Homo sapiens: one gene and its partners. The protein of the gene in region 7 purifies or fractionates together with the protein of the main gene of each other region. This does not show direct contact. Each region holds a gene or a part of one and is shown on either strand. Other genes may lie near its edges.

Evidence for each region.
Region 1: the proteins of HTR1E (region 7) and HEATR1 purify together in Homo sapiens (co-immunoprecipitation; one large-scale study listed by IntAct). This does not show direct contact.
Region 2: the proteins of HTR1E (region 7) and LMBRD2 purify together in Homo sapiens (co-immunoprecipitation; one large-scale study listed by IntAct). This does not show direct contact.
Region 3: the proteins of HTR1E (region 7) and ATP2B1 purify together in Homo sapiens (co-immunoprecipitation; one large-scale study listed by IntAct). This does not show direct contact.
Region 4: the proteins of HTR1E (region 7) and ALG10B purify together in Homo sapiens (co-immunoprecipitation; one large-scale study listed by IntAct). This does not show direct contact.
Region 5: the proteins of HTR1E (region 7) and ADGRG1 purify together in Homo sapiens (co-immunoprecipitation; one large-scale study listed by IntAct). This does not show direct contact.
Region 6: the proteins of HTR1E (region 7) and CLCN3 purify together in Homo sapiens (co-immunoprecipitation; one large-scale study listed by IntAct). This does not show direct contact.

The regions. Positions count from the first base shown.
Region 1 is NC_000001.11:236,597,600-236,601,883, reverse strand, and holds part of HEATR1 (HEAT repeat-containing protein 1), read left to right. Parts: intron 1-2,259; coding exon 2,260-2,401; intron 2,402-3,904; coding exon 3,905-4,006; intron 4,007-4,284. UniProt on the Homo sapiens protein: Ribosome biogenesis factor; required for recruitment of Myc to nucleoli. Involved in nucleolar processing of pre-18S ribosomal RNA. Required for optimal pre-ribosomal RNA transcription by RNA polymerase I.
Region 2 is NC_000005.10:36,113,254-36,117,537, forward strand, and holds part of LMBRD2 (G-protein coupled receptor-associated protein LMBRD2), read right to left. Parts: intron 3,341-4,284; coding exon 3,207-3,340; intron 1,868-3,206; coding exon 1,762-1,867; intron 1,269-1,761; coding exon 1,171-1,268; intron 1-1,170. UniProt on the Homo sapiens protein: Recruited to ligand-activated beta-2 adrenergic receptor/ADRB2, it negatively regulates the adrenergic receptor signaling pathway. May also regulate other G-protein coupled receptors including type-1 angiotensin II receptor/AGTR1.
Region 3 is NC_000012.12:89,702,017-89,706,300, reverse strand, and holds part of ATP2B1 (plasma membrane calcium-transporting ATPase 1), read left to right. Parts: intron 1-4,284. UniProt on the Homo sapiens protein: Catalyzes the hydrolysis of ATP coupled with the transport of calcium from the cytoplasm to the extracellular space thereby maintaining intracellular calcium homeostasis.
Region 4 is NC_000012.12:38,326,194-38,330,425, reverse strand, and holds the end of ALG10B (dol-P-Glc:Glc(2)Man(9)GlcNAc(2)-PP-Dol alpha-1,2-glucosyltransferase), read right to left. Parts: 3' UTR 705-4,232; downstream 1-704. UniProt on the Homo sapiens protein: Dol-P-Glc:Glc(2)Man(9)GlcNAc(2)-PP-Dol alpha-1,2-glucosyltransferase that operates in the biosynthetic pathway of dolichol-linked oligosaccharides, the glycan precursors employed in protein asparagine (N)-glycosylation.
Region 5 is NC_000016.10:57,634,346-57,638,629, reverse strand, and holds part of ADGRG1 (adhesion G-protein coupled receptor G1 isoform b precursor), read right to left. Parts: intron 1-4,284. UniProt on the Homo sapiens protein: Adhesion G-protein coupled receptor (aGPCR) for steroid hormone 17alpha-hydroxypregnenolone (17-OH), which is involved in cell adhesion and cell-cell interactions.
Region 6 is NC_000004.12:169,721,396-169,724,775, reverse strand, and holds the end of CLCN3 (H(+)/Cl(-) exchange transporter 3), read right to left. Parts: 3' UTR 1,103-3,380; downstream 1-1,102.
Region 7 is NC_000006.12:86,935,780-86,940,670, reverse strand, and holds the start of HTR1E (5-hydroxytryptamine receptor 1E), read right to left. Parts: upstream 3,144-4,891; 5' UTR 2,848-3,143; exon of another isoform or gene 2,787-2,847; intron 1-2,786. UniProt on the Homo sapiens protein: G-protein coupled receptor for 5-hydroxytryptamine (serotonin). Also functions as a receptor for various alkaloids and psychoactive substances.

The DNA of each region.
Region 1 (4,284 bases), on a different chromosome or scaffold from region 7:
CTGGTGTGAGCCACCACAGCCACTGCACACGGCTGTCTTTTTATTTTTATTTTATTGAGTGTCAGGATTTCACTCACCCAGGCTGGAGTGCAGTGGTGTGATCGTGGCCCACTCGATCTCCAGGGCTCAAATGATCCTCCGATCTCAGCCACCCAAGTAGCTGGGATTACAGGCATGCACCACCATGCCCACCTAGTTTTTTTTTTGTTTGTTTGTTTTTGTTTTTGTTTTTCCATTTTTTGTAGAGACAGTGTCTCACTTTGTTGCCCAGGCTGGTCTGGAACTCCTGGCCTCAAGCGATCCTCCTGCCGAGTCGGCCTCCCAAAGTGCTGGGGTTACAGGCATGAGCCACCACATCCAGTCCAACTTACATGTTTTAAAAGTAGATTTCTATTCCATTAATTGGAGACATGGCTTCAAGGCCAGCCTGGCCAGCATGGTAAAACCTGTCTGTGTGAAAAATACAAAAATTAGCTGGGCGCAGTGGCGAGCACTTGTAATTCTAGCTACTTGGGAGGCTGAGGCAGGAGAATTGCTTGAATCCAGGAGACAGATTTTGCAGTGAGCTGAGATCACGCCACTGCACTCCAGCCTGGGTAACAGGGAGACGCCGTATCAAAAAAAAAAAACAAAAAATGGAGACGTGGGGATAAACTAATTTTTTTTCAAGAAGCAAGTGAGTCATCAAGAAAACATGATTTTAACTTGGGTCTTCTGATTGTCAGAACATTAGGGCAATCAGACAAAGAATATTTAAAAGTCTGTAATATTTCCATCTGTTTTCTAGCACCTAACTTTACCCCCAAATAGATCATTAATGTAAGGAATACTTTTTGCATTTGATTTTTCATTTTATGTCTTCAGATAACTTATTTATTCAGCAAATACTAAGTTCAGTACATAGATAAGTAGGTTGCCGTTGATTACTGTTTTGAAATAAATGCCATAATAAAGGATTAAGCAGAGTTTTGTGGATATAGTTCTGCCTGGAATAGTTGAAGAAAGCTTCATGGAAAAAGTAACCGCTAAAACCGTATGTCAAACTAAGAGGCTGGGTTCAGTGGCTCACGCCTGTAATCCCAGCACTTTGAGAGGCTGAGGCAGGCCAGTCACTTGAGATCAGGAGTTTGAGACGAGCCTGACCAACATGGTGAATCCCTGTCTCTACTAGAAATACAAAAAAAAATTAGCTGGGTGTGGTGCTGTGCACCTGTAATTCCAGCTACTTGGGAGGCTAGGGCATGAGAATCGCTTGAACTTGGGAGGCGAAGGTTGCAGTGAGCTGAGATCACACCACTGCACTCCAGCCTGGGTGACCAAGTAGACTCTGGAAAAAAAAAAAAATCTAATAAAAGGCAATGTATGGTACTGTTTAAAAAAAGTACACGATGTAAAAGGATAGGAGAGTTTTCACAGAAGAGGGATCAGTTGGCAGAATTAGAAAAAACATCTTAGCCAGGCATGGTGGCTCACACCTGTAGTCCTAGCACTTTGGGAGGCTGAGGCAGGTAGATTGCCTGAGCTCAGGAGTTGGAGACCAGCCTGGGCAACATGGTGAAACCCCATCTCTACTAAAGTAAAAAAAAAAAATTAGCTGGGCATGGTGGTATGAGTTTGTAGTCCCAGCTACTTGGGAGGCGGAGGCAGGAGAATCTTTTAAACTTGGAGGTGGAGGTTGCAGTGAGCCGAGATTGTGCCACTGCACTCCAGCCTGGGCAACAGCAAGACTCCCTCTCAAAAAAAAAAAAAAAAAAAAAAAAAAAAATGTTGACAGACCAGCCTGGGCAACACAGGGAGACCTAGTCTCTACACAGAAATAAAAAATTAGCCAGCTGTGATGGTGCTCCCCTGTGGTCCCAGCTACTCAGGAGACCTAGGTGGGAGGATCATTTGAGCCTGGGAGGTTGAGGCTGCAGTGACCCGTGATCGTGCCACTGCACTCCAGCCTGAGTGGCAGAGCAAGACTCTATTCAAAAAATTAAATAAAAATTGTAAAGCTGAGAGAAAGTTAATGGGATGTATATTTTGATGTAGAATATTCAAAGATATTGCATAGGAATTGGCTGGACCATGTTGAGGGATATGTGAATGCAAAATTGGGGACTTTTTAAATGCTCTGTATCTTATAATTTTGTGATTTTTACTGCTACTCGTTCTAGGTTGTTTTAGCTTATTAATAATACAGTTTGGGCATGTGAGGAAATAGGTGCTTATTATTAAGTTTTGTGTTCAGTTGGACTGTTTGCTTTTTTTCCCCAGGTTCCATATACATCTCTATAATCAAGATAGCCTCATTGCTTGTGTTCTGCCATACCACGAGACAAGAATATTTGTGCGAGTCATACAGCTTCTAAAAATTAATAATTCAAAGCACAGATGGTTCTGGTTGTTGCCAGTTAAGGTATAATTGCTGAATGACATATGTCTGTAATCATTACAGATCTTGATTAAGGGATTTAATTAGGAAAAAATAAGTCATTGCTCCTGGGGATAGTCCAGATAACTACCTCCATCATTTTTATTTCCTGACTTCCAATTGAAACTATTATTAATGTTAATAATATTTAGCTTTTATTTAGTATCTGACATCAGGCTAGGCAATGTACATTATATTATCTTGGATTATCACAAAACTTCATTTTTACAGATGAGGACAGGCTACTTGCCAAAGTTCACATAACTATAAAGTGGCAGAGTTGAGATTTGAACCCAAATCTGATTCCAGAGTCTGTGCCTTTGTATCGTACCATGCCGTTTGGCATTTTAAATTTGGAACTGAGAACTTAAAAAAAAGTTGAAGGTGAAGAAAGGCAGAAAATACTTACAAAAATTAAAAGGATAAGGATAACTTCAGGGGTTTCAAGAATTTACTAAAGTTGTGAGGAAGATGCTAGGAGTTAATTTACAGACTAAGAAAAGGATGCTTGTATAACAGGAAGGGTCTGGGTAAGAAAAGACAGCATGCTATTGTAGGAAAACCAACTGACTAACCGTTAGCACTTTGTTTGCAACATATGGTGGAGGAAAGTAGATGTATGTTGTTAGCAGGAACTTGACTGCATGTTGGGCATGGTGATCCAGGGTAGGGGGGGAGGCAAATGGGGATGAAGGTAAGCTAACAGATCACGAGGCTGTGCACATTAGGCTGATGATGGTAGTGGGGTCAGTGTTCAGAATTAGTAAGATAGGAGTAATGAGGACTTTTTAATTAGAAGGAGAATTTAAGAATCTGAACGTAAAGCACTTGAACTAAAGAATGTTGGAGAAGGCCAGCCTTTGATAAAGCTCATTAACTGCTCTTCCCAACATTCACTCTGCCCATAGCATCAAAATTATTCTTCCTCTAATCTACCTTGGATCTTGCTGCTCCCTAGGCACTCTTATTGCAGGTAGCCAAACTCCACTCACCTACTAAAGTTCACTTAAAATTCTCCTTTCATTTATTTAATCAGTATTTATGGAGCATCTATTACATACCATGTACAACGCTAGATGGTGGGAATAGTGGTATAAGTTGTGCAGTTTCCTAGTCTATTTCTGTTCTTAGTGTTATTGTAAAGCAATGACAGAAGCGTATCATAGTGGCTCAGAAACCAAATCGAACCAGTAAAGTTACTAAGAATCTAGAGAATCCAGATTTTGATAAATACCTTTCAAAATGTGACATACGATAAGCAAACATCTTTCACTAAATACCTCTGCCCTCATTGCTGACCTTCTCTTTTGAATTTCTAAGTTTACATGATTTTATGTGTTAATTTCATCACCACCACCAGTTATAAGGAGAGATTATATTTTTTATTTATGAATTGTAGCAGTATGAAGACATTACTAGGGTAAATGCTTTAAAATAAGGATCAGTTGATGAATGTTGCTAGTAGTTTGTTCTTTCCATCAATAACAGCAATCTGGAGTGCCGTTAGCTAAAGGAACTTTGATTACCCACTGCTACAAAGATCTTGGATTCATGGATTTCATTTGCAGTTTGGTGACAAAATCTGTGAAGGTGAGCAGTCTGTTTCATGAGTATATAATTTTATGAAAAGATTGCTTGCTTTGAATGAAGAAAACATACTAAAACATTCCCTAATAACAATGATACTTTGGATAAATTTATTTTGTTAAATGGTCTGGTGTTTTGAAGCAGGAGCAGTTTGAGAGTCCGTATCTTTTTTTTTTTTTTTAAGAATCAGTCTTTTATCACCAAAGGTGTTTTTCTACAAAAATAAATGTCTATTCCTTGCCAGATTCTAGTTACAGTGACTATTCAAAGAGAGTGTCTAG
Region 2 (4,284 bases), on a different chromosome or scaffold from region 7:
CTAATTACCGGTGCATACAGCCCCCAGTCACGTACCCCCTGCTTGCTCAATCTATCAAGACCCTCTCACGAGGACCCCCTTAGAGTTGTAAGCCCTTAAAAGGGACAGGAATTGCTCACTCGGGGATCTCGGTTTTTGGACATGTGAGTCCGCTGATGCTCCCAGCTGAATAAAGCCCTTTCCTTCTACAACTCGGTGTCTGAGGGGTTCTTGTCTGCGGCTCATCCTGCTACAATTTGAAGTTATAATCTTTTAGTTATTTTACTTATAAGAAAGTAAAATATATTTTCAAAAATTCAATAGAAAATGTATTTTAAACAATATCTGTTTACTCATTACTGTAATGTTAGTAGATATTATCTGTAACAACTATAAAATGGTATTGGAAGATTTAAATAAAGTGGGTAGATAAAATTTATTTTTCTCAGAAGAGTAAGCAATGAACATTTTTAAGTATTTTTGAAAAAGTGGTATTTTGGGTATGTTATGGAGCACTTCAGCAATGAAAGAGGGCAGAGTACAGGATGAGGAGGCCTGACATGTAAAAAGAAGGAAAGACAGATGCGAGAAGCCAAGTACACCTATCCTTTAATCCCTTTTGAATCTCACTCCTGCCTAGATTCTACCATTCATTCTAATTCCATGAAAACAGCATGCCATGTACTTTATGACACAGGAGAAAATTTCTCCTCTAATCTTAATGTACAGCTTGATTACAATCGGTCCTCACCTGACCCTTTGTGCTGGCCATGGTCTGAAGCATTTAGACACCCAGCAATAATTATTGGAAAGCTCTAAGGCTAATTTATGTCATTAGAAAAAAGCTGGACATAAGGGTGTTTTGCAGGCTACGATAGCTGTCAGTGTCAAAGGCCAGGACTTAGAGTTAACATTCTGTAATTAATCCTATCATTTTTTAGCCTAAATAGAATAATGTTAAAATAGTATTATTTATTATAATAGAATAATAACTCTACCTCTTTTTTCTTTAAATTTTTTAGAGGGAGACTCGCACCTGATCACTCAAGTAGTCCCTTCAAACTATCCCCAGCTTCTCCAAAGCTACAATGAAACAAACTGAAACTCAATCAGTAAATATTTAAAAGAGCTTTAAAGAGAAAGGATATCCAGATTTAAGAGCAAAAGAAAAAACAATGTTAAGTTTCTTACCTAAAATAAGTAGCAATGCAGAGAATTACCACCAACATAGGATAATATATATAGAATCCATCTGCAATAAAGGATAAAACTTTCATGGAACCCATAATCTGAAGAGCAAGAAAAAAGTAAGTTAAATTGGAATAGCTCTATAATTTCCATTCCTTTCCATCATTAGAAAATTTGCCTATAACCAGTTATATCAATCCATTTGAACTTTTTAAAAAGTAGAAAAAAAGCAGTAAATGGACTTATTTTTTAAAATCTGCTTTTTATTGAGGTTTTCTCTTAAAGAAAATTAATATAATTATTACTCAAAATTATCACATACATTGACTACAAATATAAAGTTAATATTAGTATAGGTCAGTTCTTTTGATACTGGTCAGCTAGACAACATATATGAACCAAAAAAAACATTTTTATCATAAAAGAAGGAAAATCACTTTTATCTAGTCAATAGTAATACGTATACAATCTTTAAGAGAAAATTTTACCAATAACACTATAGAACTTTTCTGCTGGCATTAAAAGAAATTTCACAATAACAGCACCTCATATAGATAGTGAACCTAAGGAATTCTATTTTCTGACCGTACTTACAGATGTATAAGCAGTTGGTTGAGTATTCTTGTGAGAGATAGATGAATCCATATGGGTCAAACCCAAGAAATTAAGACATAAAGGAGGTGTCAAACGGCAAAATAGCCTGCAACAAACATTTAAAAATATGTATATAAAAAGTAAAGCAGCAAAATACATTTTATAGTATACTGAGATGTATTAAAAACATTTCAGATAATTATAGCTAAAATTTTCATCTATTTGCTTTATATATATATTGAATTCTTAATGTGACCTGCCCTCACTTACTTGGGAGATATTCTGAAAATTGCCACATCAATGCCTACGTGACTACAGCCTCAAGCTCCTTGCTTTTATGGTTTCTGCCATTGCTTTATCCCCACAAGTTGTGGAGTGCCTTTGTATCATCTCCTACAACTAAGCCATCCGTAAAATCCATCTCACAGCATGACAAGGACAGTAACATCCTCAAGGTGAATTGTATTCAGTACATAAAAGAACTGAAGTTGTATCAACATATGTCATTCTGACAAGCACAGATATAAAGTTGTTCAATTCTGTCCAAATAAAAAGAATGCCTTACAAACCCACACACTTGGATAATTGGGGCTGGGGAGAATAAAGTGTGGGTATGAATTAAAAAAAAATAATATGAGATAATTCTTTTGTGGTGATAGAACTGTTCTGAATCCTGATTGTGTTGGTGGCTACAGGAATCTACACACACACACACACACACGAATGAAGGATAAAAAATGGTGAGAACTAAATAAAGTCTGTAGTTTGTAGTTAATAGTAATGTTTTACTCTCATTTCCTGGTTTTGATATCACTGGGGGTAGCGTGAAGGTTACATAGGACTTTTTGTGCTACATTTGCAACTTCCCATGAGTCCATAATTATTTGGAAAACAACAAAAAAGATGCTTAAAAATACTTTGGATGTCAACTCCTCTATAAAATTATCTAAGTTCATCCTTTATAAATACCTAATAGGACTCATTTAACAATAAGAACAGGTAATAGATTGTACAATCTTGCCCAACTTGAAGACATCTCTCTAAATCCTCTCTGAATTCCTCAGGAAAAATTGTTCTTGTTGGTTTTCTCAGTCCTCCTCAACTCAGTGAGAGACCGCTGAATCTTAGAACACCATCTAGGTCTGACTTAGTCTCTAAACTGTCCATTGTTTCTACTGCTTGCTAATCTCTGGTTGGTAAATCCGGGCTCACTAAGTATGCTTCTTCTGCCTTCTAGCCTAACCTAGCACACCTATTTTAACCTTAAACCTCAAGCAGGAAGTAGCTGGCAATCAACAAACATCAATTTAATATTTGAAACTAATCAATTAGCTGATAGAAATATAGATGTTAGTGGAACACCTGTAAACAACAAAAAATAAAAGATCCATAAGAATACACTCAATGATGACATTTCTCTTGTTTCTAAACATAATCCTACTTACATGCCACTGAAAAGAAGGCTATAAGCATCAGTCTGGTGATGTGAGGCCAAATAATAATAGTTAAATACACGAATCCTGAACACAGTAGAATAAACACAGATACTTAGGAAGAAGATGGAAAGGAAGCAGGCAATCTGGAAAAAAACAAAAACAAAGCAGTTTGTTTAAAACAAACAGACTTTAGCACTTAACAATTACAGGCATTATCCTTCATTTCTTTTTCTTTTGTTTTTTTGAGATGGAGTCTCGCCCTGTCACCCAGGCTGGAGTGCAGTGGCGCGATCTTGGCTCACTGCAACCTCCACCTCCTGGGTTCAAGTGATTCTCCTGCCTCAGCCAACTGAGTAGCTGGGATTACAGGCATGTGCCACCACGCCCGGCTAATTTTTGTATTTTTAGTAAGATGGGGTTTCACCATGTTTGCCAGGCTGGTCTCAAACTCCTGATCTCATGATCCATTCGCCTTCGCCTCCCAAAGAGCTGGGATTACAGGTGTGAGCCACCACGCCCAGCCTGGCCTTCATTTCTAGCTAACATTTATTGATGCTCTAAAATTGAAATACAGTAATAGAGAATTTTTTAATCACCCACTAAGATTATGAAAAAAACCCAACACTTCAAACTGTTTAACATCCTAGATCCAAAAGTTTCGAATCTACCTTCTAATGTGAGCCTGTTTTCCCATTCCCTTGGCAACTCTTCACATGAGGCCTATAAGTTATGTAGCTTTACTGGCATAAATATAATCAAAGTATTCCCAGGGCCAAGTGTGATGGATCCTCCTGAAGCAGGACGATCACTTGAGTGCAAGAGTTCCAGACCAGCCTGGGCAACATGGCAAAATCCTGACTCTACAAAAAATACAAAAATTAGCAGGGGATGGTGGTGCATGGCTGTAGGCCCAGCTACTTGGGAGGCTAAGGTGAAGGTGAGAGGATTTCTTGAGCCCGGGAAGTTGAGGCTGCAGTGAGCCATGTTCATGCCACCACACTCCAGCCTGGGTGACAGAGCAAGATTCTGCCTCCAAAAAAAACAGAAAGAAAAAAAAAATCTCAGATTTCTGCACTATCTTGCAACT
Region 3 (4,284 bases), on a different chromosome or scaffold from region 7:
ACTTACCTTTTGTGATTTTACTGTTTTACAGTTGCTTGTTCTTAAATAATATAGATGAACACTTCGAGCAGGTGTACTTATATTCAAAGTTTAATAAAGACCATGTTAGAAAAAGTGGTTTGTATACATGGCTCCTCTCAGGTGCATCTCATGTAAAAATAAATGGAGATTTTAATACTTAGAAAAGAGTTACTGTAGTGACAGTTGAGATTTCTTTCCCTTCCCTTCCTTCCCAAATCATAAGTATAAGGAACACTGTCTCTTTAGGCACAGCCTCCTTTTTTGATGTAACATGAGAAAAGGGATTTAGCTCCCAAGTAATGAATTAAGATGTGGATATTATTACATATAGTCTTACTTACAAACCGCAAAATATTACTGCCCTTCTATCTGCATTTAAGGTTTCATTCAACACTTGCAATTTCTCTATAGACAATGTAAAGCATTGGCTATTGAGCTGTAGATAAGTCTTTATTAAACTAAAATTAGCCAAAAACTCTGAGATGAAAGGTGTTTTATCCCCTTACTGCTATGTGTTCTCTGTCGAACTATGGAATATGGCCCCGGGATAAAGGACATTATTTGAGCTATTAGATTGTTGCATGTAGAGTAATTATATGTTGTTATATATACTTTCATAGATTCCTTGATTTCAGAGTAAGATTTACTAATTTCCTTTGACTGACAGACATGTTAACTTCATTTCAGATGCAACAGTCTCTTACCATGGGAAATGAGTTTTAAAAGGAACGGCCACTTATAACTATTGGTCTTCTGTAATATTGAACAAAATAATATTTGGTTTTTTTCCCTTACATTTTACACATGAATACAGTAAAATTGATGTTTTCACTTTTTTATTCTGGAATTTTGTAATGGATGAGCAAAAAACAATAAAAGGACTGAGGATCAGAAAGCAGAAACAAACATTTAGGTTTTTGCATCTCGGGCAAGAGTATTGACCAGATGGAAGGGAATAATTATTTTCTAGTAGCTGTCATGATATGTAATAAAGGTACTAATAGTAGCTTATTTGGGACTAGGTGGAATCTGAGGTGACATTGCCAGGAAAATAACATACAATGGTTATGGGAATAATTTTCATAAAGATAAATAACTTTAAAAAATTCACTTTTTAGCTTTTAGAAATGTTATCTATACATACCACATATATTGTTGTCTTGTTAAAATTTTTTATTATAGAAATTATCAAACATAGGAAAGTAGAGAGAATGATATACTTACTGGCCAGTTTTGACAATTACCAACTCTCGTGGTCCATCACATTTCATTTATATCTTAACACAAGAAATGGTTCTGTTATAAATGGGGACATAGGACAGGTAATCGAATCGAATTTTTGTATTTGTATTTTTCAGAATACGGTATACTCAATAGTGTCCAATATCTAATTAAATCTGAATGGTCAGTTTTTATGTTCTTCGTTGATTCTTTAGTGGCATATACATTTTAATTTTTCTGGTGGTAGTTTGTGTATTTTACAGCAGGTGCCCAAAGATAGTGTCTCTCAAATTTTGCTGTCTTCAGAAATCACAGGTATTATTATTAACTACTTTACAGTTTTCAGAATGTATTTACATATGACCTCATTTGATTCTCACAATAATCCTGTGTGGTGAGTAAGGCAGACAATTGTACTTTTTTTTGTTTTTTGTTTTTTGTTTTTTTTCTGGTAGGCAAAGTGATTTGTCTAGGCCCTAAGGTCATATAGCTAGCAGCTTTTTTAGCCCAAACTGGACTTTAGGTGGCTTCTAGATTTTGCTCATTGCTCTTCTCATTATACACGTTTATGTAAGTTTATGAAAGTTATGTATGGAAAATCAGTTTTGATCAGAGTAAATTTAATAGAGAAATATGAATGGGTTTGTTTGGGTTGAGCTTTATAAATTTAATCATTACTTATATTTGGTGTAATACAAACAGTTTGTGTTTTGATTTACTTAACAGCTGAGTGAATGTGAACGTATCTGAAATACTATATTTTTAATATTGTGGATTTTTTTAAGTTAGGAATTTTGATTTCAAAGAACTGTTGGCCTAGGGGTGTCTTAAATCTTGAATAAAAATAAAATGTGCTGTACTAAAAGTTTCTTCTTTAAATTTCTGCTGTAACTTTTTATGCACTTGTTTTTATACTATAACATGTTTATTACCTAAATCTCTTTGAAATATTCATTTGTTCTGTAATGAAATTTAGTTTAAAAGGTTCCAAATGAGGAGGTTTTAGTTCCTGAAATCCAAAACCTGGTTATAAATCTCACAAGAAAGGTGTGGTTCTCCAGCATTAATGTGCATGAAGAATCACCTGGGGGAGTTACTGAAAGTGCAGATTCCTTGGCATTGCCCCTGGAATTTTGATTCAGCAGATTTGAGGTGGGGCCAAATGCTACAGTAGTCTGCATTTTGAGAAACATTGACATTGCATTTATAACTAAGTTAAAGTTACATGGTAGAGATACCTAAATCAGTAGCAAAGTTTGATTTGTTGATGTCGATGGTTTTTGTGACAATCCTAGAACTGATAAATTGAAAATATTTCTGTTATCTATGTATGCCCAGTCTTTCAGAAGATCCATCTGTGGTTACTTAAGTTACTTATTAAGCACTGTAAACTATTAGAGAATGTTCTTTTATTTTCATGTCTTAATGTCTGCCATTTTCAAATGACTTAGACACCAGAGTTTATATTCATAAAAATAATGCATGCTGTATCCTTACAGTAGTGTGTGTTTATCCTTTAGTCTAGCTCTTTGTTAGAAGAAAAGATCGGATATTCCTTCAGACTAAAAGGACATAAGTTAGTGGATAGATAGCTCTCTTTAATTTTAGTTAACAAGCAGTTGCTCTTTCAAAAACAGCAAGTAGATCTTCCAAGAATATTAGTGATAGCATACTAATTGATAATTTACTATTTTATGCATTAAAACAGAAGTTACTGCTGTCTCACTTAAATGTTAAATAACCGTTTGTGTAGTTCACCAATCTACTCTGACTTTTGGAACTATTTTATCTAATACCATATCCACGTGAATTACCTGCCTTTAATAATTTTCCTCTTTAAGACCAGTTTTGAAATGCAGTTGTTTTTTGCTTCATTTATAACAGTATAGCAAATAGCCTGTATCTGCATTTAAAATATATTTTATAATAAAATTAATTTCAAAGCAGGTTCATCTCAAGACTGTTGGGAACCTGTTTTTGTTTGTTCCAAAACTTAGTCTTGTTGGCTACACCTTAAGGTTTATTTAGGAATCATAGCTTGTAATTTACTAAAGCTTATGGTAATCTAAATTAATAAATATTTTTGGCAGAGAGGTCCAAATAAACTGTGGGCACATTTTTTTTTGCCATATTTTTAAAAGCTATTTTCTATTAAATTTTTCCTAGGACAGTGTCAGCTATTCCAAATCGTATGTGGTGTTTTTAGTTATAAGAATATTTGGTATTTCTAAGTACAGTGACTTCCAACAATATGGTTTCTTAAAATATGGGATACCTGCTTTTGTAGTAATACTACTGTCACCTGGGCCTCTGAGGGAACAAATAAAGGTAGTGTTGAATGGACCAATGCTTGCTTACACTGTGAAATCTGAGATTACACTGCCTAACTGTAAACTGGCATGACTACTGTACAGACCTGATAAATTTAGGAGTCAAATTTATGTTTTCTGAAAAAAATAGGTCTTAAAGAAGATTTGACTGTTTAACTTGAAAGATGCTTTTTAAATACTTTTTTATTAACAATGTGGATCTATTATTCATTGTATTAACCCTGTGAGTGAGTTCTCTCTCAGGAGGATTTTAAATAATAATCTTGTACTCTCAAAACTCTCAGATCTGCTGCTTTAATCTACCTTTCATATTTGTGCCAGAATTTTCTTTTGTTTTTCAATAACCTATTTTAAACCACAGTTTCTTCACTAAAACTTTCATCTTTTTTTTATTTTTCTCTTTATCAAAATACAACTTGACTCTGAAGGCCTTTTATAAAGTAGCTCAGTGTTTTCTAAATTGTGTTTTAGAATGCTGGTTCCAAAAAATATTAATAGGGATTTCCTGGGGGAAAGAGGCACAACCAAACTCCAGGATATGCTGGTTTATGCAGTTTGGAACTTCTCTGGTACTTCAAGGTGCTAATAAGGGCTGAATCTAAATGTGGCTAGTGTTTTGTCCTCTCATTTCACAAAACTCCCTTTAGTGGAACATCTCACCTTGTTAACTTTGTGTACCAGGATCACTGCTTTGCACAACTCCAGGGGATGC
Region 4 (4,232 bases), on a different chromosome or scaffold from region 7:
GGTGGGGGGTCAGCCCCCAGCCGGCCAGCCACCCCGTCCGGGAGGGAGGTGGGGGGCAGCCCCCGCCCGGCCAGCCGCCCCGTCTGGGAGGTGGGGGGGTGCCTCTGCCCGGCCACCCCTTCTGGGAAGTGAGGAGCCCCTCTGCCCGGCCGCCACCCAGTCTGGGAGGTGTACCCAACAGCTCATTGAGAACGGGCCATGATGACGATGGCGGTTTTGTCGAATAGAAAAGGGGGAAATGTGGGGAAAAGATAGAGAAATCAGATTGTTGCTGTGTCTGTGTAGAAAGAAGTAGACATAGGGGACTCCATTTTGTTCTGTACTAAGAAAAATTCTTCTGCCTTGGGATGCTGTTGATCTATGACCTTACCCCCAACCCGGTGCTCTCTGAAACATGTGCTGTGTCCACTCAGGGTTAAATGGATTAAGGGCGGTGCAAGATGTGCTTTGTTAAACAGATGCTTGAAGGCAGCATGCTCCTTAAGACTCATCACCACTCCCTAATCTCAAGTACCCAAGGACACAAACACTGCGGAAGGCCCCAGGGTCCTCTGCCTAGGAAAACCAGAGACCTGTGTTCACTTGTTTATCTGCTGACCTTCCCTCCACTATTGTCCTATGACCCTGCCAAATCCCCCTCTGCGAGAAACACCCAAGAATGATCAATAAAAAAAAAAAAAAAATAGACACAACACATTATAAAATATTATCAAACATGAATTTATTTAGAAACAAAATAAAAACATGCTATTTGAACAAACTTTTTTATAAAGAATAAGTTGACTGAAAAGCAGTTTTAAATAACATCAACTCACAAATGACTTTTAGAAGCCAAATAAACATTTCTATTTTAGAGAATAGTATGTAATACATAACTTAAAAGCATATAGAACACATATTCCTACATTCTTAAAAATAAGAGATTGTGATTCCACAGAGAATTTTTCAAATATCTAAAGTATGTCCTGTTAAACCAACAATTTGCTTCCAAACAGGAGTCTCTTTTGAGAAGCTAAATATTAATTTTCAAACAACTATTTCTCCATTTGTTAACTGGAATCATTCATATTAAAACAAAGGTCTTTATGTCAATGTATGTTAATATGGCTGAAGGCTCCAGCCCTGAGTTATTTTTTTACTTCCTTAAATTCATAATTACAACATATATCAATTTGAGGTATCATGACAAAAACAGAAACAAAAGACACAATGGTAGATGAGAATCTATCTCCCTGTGGAAGAGGCAAAATTAGTGTGGACCTCATTTTTCTGACCTATAAAACTAGGAAGTATAATCACATTACTTGCGACAATTTTTCCTTCTAAAATGCCATGAATTTGAAGGTAGACTTCATGCCTTTCTCCATCATAACAATAGAGTTAAGAATATTGATTTTGGAGTCAGGCTGCCTGGTTACGAATCCCAGCTCAGACAGTTATTTTGTAATCTTGGAAAAAATACTTCACCTCTCTATACTAAGTTTCCCCATGTGTACGGTACTGATCTCATAGAGTTGTTATGAGACTAACATGGGTAAATCACTTTATAACAGTGGCTGATACAATGTTACACGAGTTTTCAAATGAGATATCATCACTCATTGTTTGTGGGAAAAGATTCTAACTATGTCATATGAATGAAGTATGCCATATGCAAAGATCATATCATATGGGAAGATATATTAGGTTAAATCGTCTAATGATTACAAAACACAAAGTGAGGTTTTTTTTGTTTGTTTTTTTTACATTTATCTTAGCTTCATACAACGCAGAAAACATTTGAATAACATTAGATAAATAGATATAAATGATTATAAATCTTTGTGGTTTAAAACAATAAAACACTATAAAAGAGTTTAATTCAGACTAATAAAAGTTTAACTACAACACTTGGAAATGTAGCACAATATCTCCACCTAGTGGACACCTTAAAAATTTTTACAGATAGTGCTCAGCCTTTTTTTATCACTGGCGGAAAACTTTTCAAATAGAAGTAATTTCACGAATATAGAGGGATAAAAAATAGAAAATAAGTTAAACACTATATTACCAGTGCTCCAAAACATCACCGCTAAAATACATTTTAGTAAGTTGTATAACTCAAATGTTTTTCTAAAACAGGGTGTAATAGAGTCAAATAGTAGTTTTGGTTTAGAAACTTAAAATATACCAAAGACAGCATGTAAGTCATCAGAAATACTTGACCATGACTTAGCAATTAATTTTTAAAAATTAGCTGTAACAAAATTTAGAATTTAAAAATTACAGAGCTTTAAAGATGTCAGATACCTTTAAAAGACATTTGAACTACTTGCTATCTAACTCTTGTGTAGTATCTTTGATAAATAGAAATCTTATCTCCAATGAATGAGAATCTTACTTTTTTTCTGGGCTTGTTTCCCTAAAAAGACTAAACAATTAGAAGTTATGCTTTTCATGATTTGCAATCTAATTGTTGACCTCTGATTTACACTTCAGGCAATACAGAATTAAGTCCAATCTTTCAAATAATTATTCTTCAAGAGAGCTTATCAAGTGATAGAATTTCCACTTATCCAAATTAAATATCCCACATAATTTTAGTCATTTATCTTACAACAAAATTATAAGGAGTTATCATGTTGTTCATGCTCTTTTGAACAGTTTGTAGCATTTTAAAAAATGACTATATCCAGTACAAAAATAACACGTCATGAATGGTTTGGAAACTGCAGAGAGCAAACATGGATTTTCACCTCTCTCTCCATATACTACTTCTTTTGATTTAAAAAAAATTGAAAAAAAACTTTTCATAGTGAGGCAGAATATGACGGTCAAAAACTCACAGGCTTGGGAGTCATACCAATCTATGTTCATTTAGTGACAGTGTGGACTTTGGGCAAATCACCTGACCTGACCGACCTTCAGTTTCTTCAGCAGTCAAAGAGAAATCAACATCTGCCTCATAGAAATATAAATGTAGCATCAAATGAGACAATATTTGTAAATCAGCTAGTATAATGCCTAAAACATTATAGGTGTTCAATGAATGATGGCAACCATCATTATTATTGTTACTTTTTCTCCTTTTTTCATCTTATATATGCCATACACACACATATATGGTTCAACTAAACTGAATTAAGTTTCACTGTGAAAAACCAATACATTTAATATTTTTCTTGTTGGAAGCTGGCACAGTGGCTCATTGTAAATCCTAGCACTTTGGGAGGCCAAGGTGGGAGGATCACTTGAGGCAGGTGTTTTGAGACCAGCCCACACAACATAGTGACACCCTGTCTCAATTCTTACAAAAAAAAAAAAGGAGAAATTATATGTATACACACACACATACATTACATATATACAAATTTGTATATATAAATACGTATATATTTGTATATATAAATATATATATATGTATTTTCTTTTCCTTGTTAGAAAAATACTGTATTGTCTTTTGGTCTGATGGTGATAGGCTGAGATAAAATTTAATTAACATTAAATTCATCAAAAATTTATCTCTTAAAAAAGCACAATATAGAGATATTATATTGTGACAGAATTTCTTACCCTAGAAATAATTTTTCAAATCTCAAATATTAAATATTAGTGTTGACTCATGGATATATGTTAAAAATATGTCCTCAATCTCTATTTTTATTATAATTTTCTCAGTTACACAAGTTTTTGTATATTGGAAACGTCAGTTGTCAACATTAAATACATAAAAATGCCCTATATAAAAAATAATTAACAGCTATTCCTAGAGTGGTAAAATGTAGCCCAACTAAAAAAAACAAAGTATTTGTAATTAGTTGAAATGTCTTTTACCTTTAAATTCTTTAACCTGTTATTCGTTGAAGGTTACTGATTTTTCTTATTTTAAATAGAAATAAGAATATTTTCTTATTTTAAATAAAAAGCAATTATTTTGAAATTATACCCTTAATAGGGTATAAAGTTTCTTTAATAAGAAACTTTCCTTTAAAGTGTTATAACCTTTTAATGGTTGAAAGTTATTTGTTTTTCTTATTTTAAATAAACAGTAATTATGTTGAAATCATATCCTATCAAAGAAACAACATGTTTACAAGTAAATACATGTATAAGCATTAAATGCTAGCAGGGGTCTCCAATCTTTTGGCTTCCCTGGGCCACACTGGAAGAACCATCTTGGGCCACACATAAAATACACGAACACTAATGATAGCTGATGAGCTAAAAAATAAAATAAAATAAAATAAAATAAT
Region 5 (4,284 bases), on a different chromosome or scaffold from region 7:
GTGCATCATATTTCTCTGAAAACTCCTTAGGGTCCACCTCCTCCAGGAAGCCTCCTCAGATTGCCACAGCCTACCAAGAATCCCCCTTCTGAGTTAGCCCTAGGCCTGGAGGTTCCTCCTGGCTTCCTTCTAGAGCTCCCGGGGCGGGGCTGGGAGCTCAGATTCTCTTTTGCCAGTCTGGGGAAGGAGGAAAATAGAGGCAGAGCTTCTGAAACTCCTACTGTGTGCCAGGAACTACACTGGGCATTTTGGAGATCCATTTCTACCACTCTGCAAGGTTAGCCCTAGGGGACCCACCTTACAGATTGGGAAACAGAGACTCGGGGGATGTGACTTGCTGTGAGCCACCTAGCTGGTAAGGGAAGGGTATGGAATTTAAATGGAGATTTTCTCTGGGACATGAAGCTATCAAGACCAGTTGTCCATCTGGCACTTGGCTAATCCCTAACTCTCCCCCACGTTCAATGCTCAGCCAACTTTATTTGAACATCTCCAGTGACAGGGAGCTCGCTCTCTTCCAAGAGGGCACATTCCTTTGATCTCTAAGTTTTTCATACCCACTGAGTCAAAGGGAAAAGGACATAAAAACTGTGGTACGCCCCAGACAGGGCACAGAAAAGAACCAGGGGTTAGAACCCCCACCGAGGTTTTCGGTTCCAGGCCAGCAGATAGGGTGGGGTTGCTCAGGGGTGCAAAAGGTCCTGGGGTCTCAGTCAACCAGCTACAAGCACTTTCTCAGAGCACAAGTGGGGAACCCCACTGGCAATCACATTCTGAGGGGAGTCCAACAGAGGAAGGGGCTTTGGGATGATTTCTGGCAGAGGCCATGGGAAAGGCAGCAGGGGCTTGGGGCTGAGGGGATGGTGTCTCTGCAACTCCCCTTCTCCCCCGCCCCTCCGTGGAGCAGAGCCAGGAGGCAGCTTCAGTCAGGAGGCTGCTATTGTCTCACTGCAGGCCCAGAGCTGGGTCCCATTCAGGCCCTATTTTTGGCCCCCGGAGGAAGAGGAAAAGAAAGCAAAGAAAGGACTTGCTGTTCTCTGGTGAAACCTTCTCCCGGAAAGGCTCACAAGGCTTGCTGGCCGGAGAAGGCGGCCTCTGTTGCATCAAAGGATCCTGTGCTTAAAGGGAGCTGGCAAGGGGCTGTGGTTCAGGGGACCTGGGGGGAGGTACAGACGAGGCACACCACGCCTTTTACATACACTTGGCACTCACTTACAACAGCAACCCGGAGAAACAGAGGCACAGCTTCCCCAGCCCCACCCATAGTCCCTAAACATCCCACTCATAGTAATAATAAAAATAACTGCAATAGCTCATTGCTGCCCAGAGCCAAAAGCCAAAGCACTGTCTTACTTCACACCTACAACATTCCCGACCAGGGTCGGGGCGGGGACTGAAATGATGAAGCTCATTTTGTAAGTCAGAGAACTGAGGCTCAGGGAGCAGCAGGACTGCTGAAATCACAAGCCAGTGACCACAAGCCTACTCCCGTCCCCCAGCCTTACGCCACCCCATCCCTTCCTTGCAGTCGCCAACTCCAGCCACTCTAGACTTCTGTCCTCAGACACACCTCAGGGTCTTTGCGTGCACTTTTCCCTCAGCATAGCACATCCTTTCCAGGACCCTTTCCCTGACTGCCTCCTTCTCAGGCCTCAACTCAAATGTCCCTTCCTCTGAGAAGCCTTCCATGACCACCCAATTAAAATTATCTTCCGTATCCATCACTCGCTTCCATGTGATTTATTACCCGTATTGGCACCCAACATTGACATGACTCTGCCATTTGCTTACCTGTTATCCCTTGCTCAGCTTTGCTGTCTCACCTGTCTTGCTCACCACCTGCATCTCCAGTACCTAGCACAGTGCCTGGTCCATAGAAGATCCCCAGTGACTGCTGGATGAGTAAATGAAGACTGAGACGGAGCTGGGACTCTAACCCAGGGCAGGCAGGCTCCACACCTCTTCCCAAAAGGAGCCATTCCTGATAGATACTAGATAGCCATTCCTGATAGAAGATCTAGAAGATCCAACCCAAAAGTGCCACTCAGGCTATGTGAGGGGTAGGGGATAGGGGATGGAGAGGGTTCAAGCACTGAGCCATCTCCACTCTCCAGCATCTAACAGGATCAGGAGCACACACACCTCTGCCGGCTGCTTGGCCAGAGAACGGTTCCCAAGACTGTGCATAGCCTGATAGGATCTGAAACACAAGGCAAACTCCCCTTTGTTTTCCCGATAAAGGCTCTGAGAAGTCCCACAGCATGGAAGCCTGGGAGCGCATGCCTTTCCTATGCCACTGGGGCCACAGACAGCTTTAATGGCTGCTGGATTAGAAGATGTCTGAGATTCCATCTGAATCTGTGAGCACTGAACCTTGGATTTTCTCTCTACATTAAAGCAAAATTACCACCCCCAAGACCCTCAAAGGCCCACTCCTGTGGTTCGGGCCTAAGGGGAGCCCAGGTAGCAGATGTGCAAAGAAAAGTGGGTCCCGTTCCCATTGCTGCAGACCCCAAGCTCCCACCTGGGCTCCCCATGGGCTCTCCAAGGTCAAGCAAGGAGGAGAAAGGGCACGTGCCTATGGCCATGGGGTCCTGCGATCTAGCAGGCTGGGGGTGGGGTGTGTCCCGAGGACTAGTCTGCAGAGACTCACGAGGCAGAGCTGGGGCAGGGCAGGGAGCCACGTACAAGTGCAAACCATAGGATATGCACTTGGCCTCCCATGCTTCCAGGGCCACTCTATGAGGAGGTACTATCATTCCCATTTTATAGCAGGGACACAGGGACACGGAGCTTGCCCAGGGACACAGAGCTCGTAAAACTGGATCCAAAGGAGCATGGTGCACTCCTTTCCCTGGGCTGCCTCTGTTGTCCTGCATGCCCTGGCAACGACATGGAGAGTCGGCAGCAGCTACTCCATAGAGAGGGAAAGGGAGGCTCAGAGGGGCTGAGCCACAGGGCCCAAAGCCTCACGGCCCAGGGAACAGGGGCGGGGTTGGACCTTGCTCACTCCTGTGCTCACGTGGTTTGCAAACACTACCGTCCTTCCTAGATCGCAATCACTAAAGGTTCTGACTCCAGTTTCCCAAACCCAGGTAGGTAGACAGAGACGGGACCCTGGGGCATGCCACCACCTGCTGCAGGATCTCCATGAAGAGACACTGGCTGTCCTCCCCCACCATGGCTGGCAAGGGTGCTGCACTGGTCCCAGCTCCCACCACCTCCACTTAAGGTGCCAGGAGGCAGGCAGGAGAGGAGCTGGAGGACAGACCGTGTGCACCTGGTCCCCTAGGTGTGCACACAGGTGGCAGAGTCCCCCAGAAGGTGTGGCCAGGACAGCCATGGCATAGGATAAGTACAGCTTTGAGGAAGCTGTGCACGAGGGTTTCTTCCAGCTTTGCCCACTGCCCATGGCTCTAGGCAGGTGGGGGGCAGGGGAAGTGCCATGGGGTCAGGAATGCCCCTATTCAGGTTCAAGCCTGTTGGATAAGGGAGAGCAAGGGGTCCTGAAGATTCAGGAGGTGGGTGTCCTGCCCTCCTGACCTCCCTCAGCCTCTCCCTGTTCACTCCAGTCCTCTTCAGCTGGGTCCCTCTCCCCCTCTGCTCCCTCCCATCCAGCCCACTGAGCTATTTACACATGGACAGGGGTCTCTGAAGATGCATTCATGGCTTTCATGGTGGAGGTTCCTTGGAAGAACCTTGCCAGACAGCCAGGCTATGAAGAGGGTTTCTAGATAGAGGCACCACCTGCCCACAAGCATGGCCTGATGCGGCTAGAAAGACCCATGTGATGCTTAAGGACATAGCGACTCCGGGGAATGTGGGAATTGGGTGCCCATCTCCCCCAAGGCTAGGAAAGCTCAGGGCTGGAAGCAGCCATGAAGAGGAGCCCCATGCGATGCCAAAGTTGCTTCTGCAACGCCCCTGCCACACTTGAACACCTACAAAGGTGGGGAACTCACTACCTATCATGGGAATGGCCATCTGTGGTACTCTGGGGAAAAGTCCAGGCTAAGAGGCAGGAGACTGGGTTCGGGCTCTGCTACCACTGACTGCTCCGAGCTCTTGGGCCTGATTCCTCATCTGTGAAATGTGGATAAAGTTTCAAGTCTTAGAGGGCCAGCAGCACTCAAGATTGAATGAGGGTCTTTGTAGGCAGTGAAGTGTATGCCCCAGGGGCGGAAGTTTGGGCTGTGAGTCGCCCCTGAACTGTTTGGCCCGTGCCCAGATGGTGACACAGCAGAGGAGCAGTGGGCAGAGGGCACAGGGCTGAGCATGACTCAG
Region 6 (3,380 bases), on a different chromosome or scaffold from region 7:
CTAAACATAAGCATGTGTCAGTGCTCGGTCCTTGTACCTCTTCTCTGTCTGCATTCAATGCACGGTACTCTCCTGTCTCAGGATGATGCCGCCCCTGTGTAGCTCTCAGGCTGGGCCTTTCTCCTGAACTCGAGTCTGATACATGCTAATGCCTATGTGACACCCCCACTTGGAAGTCTAAAAGACATTTAAAACAATGTCTAAAACCAAAATTCCTCTGCACACAGCACCCCACCCCCAATCTATTCTTAAGTCTTTCCCAACTCAGCCAGTGGCCATTCCATTGTTCTGTCATTACTCAGCCAAAAACTTTGCAGGCATCCTTGACTCCTCACTTACCACACTACATCCAACCCATTCACAAGTCCTGTCCATTCTACCTTCAGCATGTCTCGAATCCAACTGCTTTCACCACCTCCACCAGCTTCAATCAGGTTCAGATCTCTACCACATCTCACCTGAATTATTCCAAGAGCCTTCTAGCTGGTAGCCTGCTTCCACCCCTGCCCCCTTATAGTCTATTCCCAACAAAGGAGTCTGAGAGATATTTTAGGTCACATTATGTGACTTTTCTGCCTCACTGGCTTCTCATTTAGAATAAAAATCAAATGCCTACACCCCCAACCTCTTTCCTTACCACTTTCTTCCCTCTTATCCCTCTCCAGCCACAGTGATCTACTCAGTGTTCCTTGAACCTGGCAGGAGAATCCTTTGTATATAGCATTTTCTCTTCTTACAACATTTTTTCTCACGGATAAATGTCCTTCTCTAACTTTCTGTAGGTTTCTGCTCAAATGCTTCCTTATCCCTGAGGCTTTCCCTGATCACCCTCTATAAAAATGGGGTGGGTGCACACACCTTCACTTTTTGTACATTACAAAAACTATAACAGGATTCTTGACTGATTTTGTATATTCGTAACAGTGTGCAGTACATAAAAATCCTTTTTTAAAATTGCTGAACTAATCCATATTTATCACCATCTGACATACTCTAGATTTCTCTTCCTGCTGGAATGAAAACTTCAAGAACATAGAATAGCGCCTGGCGCCCAGTAATTGCTCAGTAAATACTCAGTGAATATAAATGATCTACTCTGAACTTTTAGTGTGTTCCTTTTTACTAAAAGCTTAATAGTAAAAGACCACATCTTAATCAAAGGTTGTTACTTACCACCCTCTTTTGGCAGTTCTATTAGCAAATGTCCAAGGTGATTTTTTAAAGACATGTAAATAAATCGTTTTACCTCTTTTCATGCAAATAGCGTAATTTTTCTTGCGAAAAAAAAAAAAATCACTTTTGAAAGTGAGCTGAAATGAAATCAGTTTTCTGTGGACCTGCAGCTTTCACTGACAAATGGGGGCGCTAAACCATTGCTGGTGGTATGAACATCCTGCTGTCAATCCAGCATCTATCTACTCTTCTATTGCTCCTTGCTTGCAAAGTGTAGAAATGCTTTGTAACCTGAGAGAAGCATTATAATTATTACCTTTTTGGGGCTCCCTGTGCCAGGCATATCGGCCTACACTGCGTAGGGCAGCAGTGAAGAGGGAGGACTGTTACAGATATAATTAAAGGCCAAACCACACATTGTCATATAGATTTTAATAGATTTTCTGATTAACTCATCACAGTAGTCGTTTTTACTGTAATGATATGCAGCTTTACTACACTAGTATAAATAAAAACAGATAAATACAGCTCTAGGCAACATTACAGATTAACTAAGCATTCTTCGTGAACCAAAACTGAAAACAATTAATTATTAAGAAGAAGAGATGCTGACACCCTTGCCCATTCTCATCATACCTTCTCAAAAAGGGTATTCAAACAAGGCGCTACACTTATTATATTGGTAAATTAATTTGCCAATTAGCCAGGCACAACAATTTCATGGTCTCCACTATTTCATTATTTTGGTTGAAAAGGAGACACACTTCAATGTATGAAAAAGAAAAATGGAACAGATAACACCAAAGAAAACCACTAAATGCATTAAAAATACGGCACTTTTCCTGTATTTTAGCAGTAAGATAGAAATACTAGGGATAGAAATATACCAAAAAACAAAATTAATGCTTTAATTAATATCCACCCTGAAATGTCAGTCTCTGAAGCAAGATGGGCAATTAAAGGAGGAGCAGAAATAAAAAAGGGAAATATGATAAAATAAACTCCATGTGAAGTTTTACGAAGCTATCTGCAAAGAAACCGATTTGTCCTTTGAAGGCTATTAACTCAGGACAATTAAGTTATCCAGCAGCCATGCTGAGGAGTTCATAGTCTAGCAATACGTTGCACACAGGCAAATACACTTAAGACGAGTTGGAGATATACAGAACTATCATTTAGAAATGATTTTACTCTGGATGGCTCAAAAAACTTTGAAAGGGCTATGAAGAAAACTTGAAGTCTGTCAAAGGAGAGAAGTAATAAGGAATAATTTTAGGCAGATAGCACAGCTAAGAATGTTTCCCAAAATCCCGAAAATTTTGCTCAACTTTCAATCCTCATTCTTATATGGCTTCATGATCTTATGTCTTCAGGATCTTACAGATCTTAATAGGTATACTATAATTAAGAACTAGGAAGTGAAGAATCACTTTCAAAATGTAAAAACAGCTCATTGCCAGTTGTGTTTCAGAAAATGTCTGTCTGGGCCAGGCGCAGTGGCCCACGCCTGTAATTCCACCACTTTGGGAGGCTCACGCAGGCAGATTGCTTGAGCTGAGGAGTTGAGACCAGCCTGGGCAGCATGGCAAAACCCCATCTCTACTAAAAATACAAAAAAATTAGCTGGGCATGGTGGCGTGTGCCCGTAGTGCCAGCTACTTGGGTGGCTGAGGCGGGAGTATCACTTGAGCCCAGGTGGTCAACGCTGCAGTGAGCCAAGACCATGCCCCACTGCACTCCAGCCAAAAAAAAAGAAAATGTCTGTTTGCAAAAATTTCATTTTCCTATCAAAAATGCATAATTACAGAATATTTAGCCCAGTCCTTTGAGTAAACTGCCTTTGCCAATTGTGAATTAAGGCTGTGATTAAAACAGACAATTCCAAAAACAAAAATCCCAAATATAATCCAGTGCATTTTCACTCATCCTGCAAAAAATGTTCAAACCATCACTGACCACTTCAAATATGGACGTAACCTAGCCCGAGATTCAAAGGTTATTTTCAGATTAAAATTTTAACTGCTATCTTTGCAATTCTATTGTTTTCACATTTTTGGTTTGATTTTTTTTTTAAGAAGGTATACACGAACTTTCGGTTTTATTCTCCAAAGTAATGTAGTTTTTCAACTTTCCAGTTAATGTAGTTTTTCAACTTTCCAGTTAATGGGTCAAAATGGACAGGTCAGAAGACATAATCCAGAGGATGG
Region 7 (4,891 bases):
AAAAAATGATCTGTGTGTAAAAGTGAGATGTAGGGAATTAGACTTGAGTAATGAGAAGATGACACAAAAGTTCAGGGCCTGAGGCTTTCTGCAAAGAGACCTACTTTCTTTTTCTTTCTTTTCTTTTCTTTTTTTGAGACAAGGCCTTGCTCTGTCACCTAGGCTGTAGTGCCGTGGCACAAACTTGGCTCACTGCAACTTTGGCTTTCTGGGCTCAAGCGATCCTCTCACTTCAACCTCCCAAGTAGCTGGGACTACAGGTACACACCACTATACTTGGCTCATTTTAAATTTTTTTGTAGAGATGAGTTCTCATTATTTTGCTCAGGCTGGTCTCGAACTCATGGGCTCATGTGATCCTCCTGCCTTGGCCTCCTAAAGTGTTGGAATTACAGGTGTGACCCATCATGCCTGGCTGAGATCTACTTTTCATTTGCAGCCTTGGTATCTTGGTGGTGGTGGGGGTAGCATATTGAGCCCACCTGGGGAATGGGTGGTGCTTGAGCCAGGTGGGGACAATGTGCTGTGAATGATATACCTTACTTCCCTCTTCAATAATAACCCCATCACGCAGCAGGAAATTGAAATATATTGCAGTGTTACCTGAACTAGAGGTGTGTCCTGGATTTTGTCTCTTCCTAGGCACCACTTCTGAAAAACGCTGACTTCGTTATCTTCCTCAAAAGAATGGAAACTTATTTACATGATTGTTGCTGACCAGGCATCGATAAGAAGAAATGGGGAGCAAATATTTTGTATAGACACCAGAATGGCTAATAAAGGTGACATCACGCTGAGTTGCAAGGTAGGCACCATTCCCTTGGGCAAATGTTGAGAGACATGAGCCATCGTTTCCATGCACTTGGTCTGGGACTAGGCCTTGAATGAAGTCATTATGGCAGAAGAGGAAAGAATGAAAACTTGATTTTACTATGCTTGTGATGCTGATTTCTGTGGAATTTAAAACTTGTTAGCTGGTGGATACACATTGTTAATTTGAATACTCTTCATTATAAAAATAATCTGCTAAGTTTTCATCCCTGGAAATTGTTATGAAAGCGAAAACAAGCACGTAAGGGAATATTTGAACATGCATATACCTAATGACCAGAGTCATGGCTACACTTTAAAAGGCTCCTTTCTAGCTCTGTTACTAGAAGTCTCAATTGAGATCTATAGCAATCCTTGGAGCTTCTGCAGCCCATGTCAGGTGATGATGACACAATAGTTAAGTTCTATCAACAATGATGAATCAGGATTTGAGTGAGTTTCTCTATATAGCTCTCTTAGTGATGAAATACCTCTATGCAGCAAAATAGTTAGTGGTGAGGTGCTATGCAATTTTAGAAATAAGCAACATACTCTGTTTTAAATATGATACAGAAACTGAGCTGAGTCCCACTTAGGAGGTGGGCTTCATCATCACAACTCCGTGGGCTGGAGGCTAAAGCTCTGAAGGGAGGAAAAACAGAGGCAGGCATATTTTGTGCATTTGTTAAATGGGCCTCAAATGCCTCCATTCATTTATTTGTTGAAGACAGGGTCATCTCATTTAATTCAGCAGGAAAGCAACTGTACCAGAAAGAGAAAAGCTGTCTCAATCTTCTCTGTATTTCAAAGGTATTTCACATATGCTCCTCATGAAGGAGACCGCACAGGGAATCAGACCCACGTGCCTGCTTTGCCTCTCTTGCGCAGGATTAAGTAAGGGAAGCCCCTGATTCACAAGTGCATCCTGGCTGTTTAAGGTTATGCATATTGTGTCTGAATGTACAACTATGATAAATATATATTCTGGAGCAATGTTAAATTCAGCTTAGGACGATGTACTGCTTAGAGCTTTGAGGGAAAACATAAGAATGATAAAATGAGCCTAAATTATTTTGGAAAAAACACTGCTCCCCCAACCCATTTGACGATCTATTATTTCCTCCTGGGCTGCTCCCTCCCCAAGAGATTTGGTGCAGGAGGCAAGGAAGGACAATAAGAAAGGTTAGGAAGAAACACCTTGGGATGCTGACACCATCTGCCTTATCCTTCTAACTCAAGGACAAGCAGCGTTGGGTTGAATACAAGGTCCTTTCTTCCAAAACTGGGCACAGGCAGAAATATACATATAGATGCAAAACCACTATGATCCTGTGATAGGAGCTGGAATCACTTCCCTTTAGACTCAATTTCCTTTCCTTTTCGTTAGGTAGGGGGTCAGCCTCTCACCTTGCAGTATTGGGTGGAGATGGCTTAAGACCAAACTTCTCATCTTAACTCTTACTTCCAAGATTTATTTTGTATTTTAAAAAAAATGAGCCTGCCTCATTACCTCCACACCTGGGCATTTTGTTTATCAGGACTGAGCACAGTATTATTTTCTGAGGGCTGGAGCAACAGTGCAGTCCTTTCTAATCAAAGGTTTTTTAATCAGCTGGCTTTGAAATCACACAGTTCTTCCGGGGTCCCTGGAGCACACCACCTCCCTGTGATTTCTACTCAAGTTTTCCCTGGCCCCCCCCAGCACCCGTTCCATACCTATTTAATCTTTAAGCTGCCTCTAATCCTTTTGCAAGGAAGCAGGATGAAATGCTCAAACCACAGTTATACACAATGTTGATTCTCAGGTTCACACATTTGAGGAATTGTTTGAACAAGAAATGCTCTCTGTACTATAATCCAGGGTGCAGGCACGGTGCCCGGGCGACCCTCAGTCTCCCTCCGACACCCCGCATCCCAACTCCCGCCGCCTTTGCGCCTCAAAGCTGGCAAACATCCCCAAGCCAGAGCTGGAGTACCTGGAGTGGGTGGGGGTAAGAAGGGAAGCCAAGGTCGTCCCGGAAGGTGTGCGCCCCTCACCTTGTGGACGGTGCGTGCAGCCGCGCCGCACTGGGCAAACCGGCACGTCCAGCTGGCTCCAGAAGTCTCACTCGGAACCCGCTCCTTTTTCTCCTGAGCTGGATCAGAGCACTGCTTCTCTCAACATTCGATTCTGGAGTACGTTGAGCCCAGGGCGTTCTCCCCGCCAGCGTCCTTGCCCGCGCCAGTGCCCGCCGGGGTGCGGCGAGACAGAACCTGGGAGCGCGGCGCGCCGGGCAGCCCGAGGCACCGCTGGTGGCAGGCGCTGCGCTTCGCCGAGTCTGGGCGCCTGGACTGGAAGAGGAGGCGAGAGGGAGAGAGCGGGGAAGAGGAGGAGGAGGAGCAGGAGCAGGAGCATGGGCAGGGGCAGTCTGCTAAATCATCTACGCAGGTCGCAGCCTCCCGGGACACCGTGAACGGAGAGGGGGGTGGTGGGTGTGGGATGAAAAGATGAGCCCGGGTGTGAGGCAGGTGGTATTGTGAACTGGAGGTCGCAGCTCCGAGGTACTCCAGGTCTTGCTTAGGTTATAAAAGAGAAATTCTGGAGCTGATGGCGCCTTAGGGCTCCCGGTTGCAGACACTAGAGGGCAGGGCTGTCCATGTTATAAACCGGGCCAGCGGGGTTGGAGGTGTGGGCAAGGGACTCACCTCCTGAGCCCCTTGCCGGCCACAGCCCTGGCGGAGAAGGGGAAAATAGATACAACAAGGGGGCAGACCCTACTCCCTTCTTCTGTAGCGAGCCTGGGTTGAGGAGGGAGAGGAACGGCGGGAGCAGTTGACGGGTTTGCACGCTTTCTCTACGCGGTTCCAATGGCAAACAGACCCTCTGGAGGTGCATTTCTTAGCCCTCCTCCAGGGGAGATTACAGTCAACATCCACAGGATGCCTCAAGGAGAGAGATTACAAGGAAGGGGTGAGGGAGAAGTGGACGAAAATTGGGGTGGGTCAAAGTGGAAGGGGGGAAGAGAGGTGGGGAAAGCAGTGAAGAAAAGGAGACGGAGAGTGGAGTGGTTGGGGCTGAAAGACCTGCTGAAGCAGCCTTGCCATTTTTTTTTTTTTTGAGGGAAGTCTACCTGGGCGCCATCTCAGGTTGTCAGAGGGCTTTGTGCTCTTCTGAGGGTGCCAGGGGCTGTTCTTTTTGTTGTTCTGCTGCCGCAAGGTCAGAAAAGTTAAGCTGGGAGGGACTTTGCAGAATCCTGGCATTGCTAAAAGAAGCTTCCTTACGGCTGGTTGGTTATTCTCTGTGGAGAACTTGGGTGACTCAACATTGAAGCCTAACATGGATTGAGCCCCTGCCATTGTAAAAAAGAAAATCAGATTGTTCAAACTAGCCATAAAATGAACTAGACAATCTTATGGAGACAGTATGATCTGTAGACAGCCTGATACACAAACCTTAGAGTTGAAAGGACCTTGGAAACCATGTAGGCAACTTGGGTAGCTGCCCCAAACACCTGCCTCACACTTTTCTTTCTGGTTTGTAGCCTTATGGCTGATTTGAAAAACACTTTAAGTTATTTATTTATTTTTTGAAGTTTGACAATTCTAAACCAAATGAAACCCTTCTTCAGTTCAAAAAGCGAGCCTGTGTGCCCTTCTCCTGCCTTCTAGAGCGCCTCTCAAGGCCAGCAGGGGTTGACTGATGGATTATCAGGGGAATTTCACTGAACAAGAGAAAGGAAGGTTGGTAAACTATAGTCTTAAATTGTGATTTGCTTCTGTTAATCCCATTAAACTGAGAATAGGCTTAAGTAGACTGAAGTCTAACAGGAGGATGAGGTGGAAATATGTTTTCCTACTAAAGATGACACATCTTGAAGTTTGTTTGATGATAAAGGTGTTATGTAAAAATAAGCAGAACAAGAATCATTCCTCATTTTAAAAAAGAATCTTATAGGACTGAAGATATTTTAGATATCCCAAGAGAGTAAGTAAGGACATTGTTCTACTCTTGCAAGTTTGGAGTTCCTCCAAAATATAAAGGAAATATGAGTTTGTTAAATTGCTTTATTTAAAATTGATTTACCTATTTTTTGGTTATTAC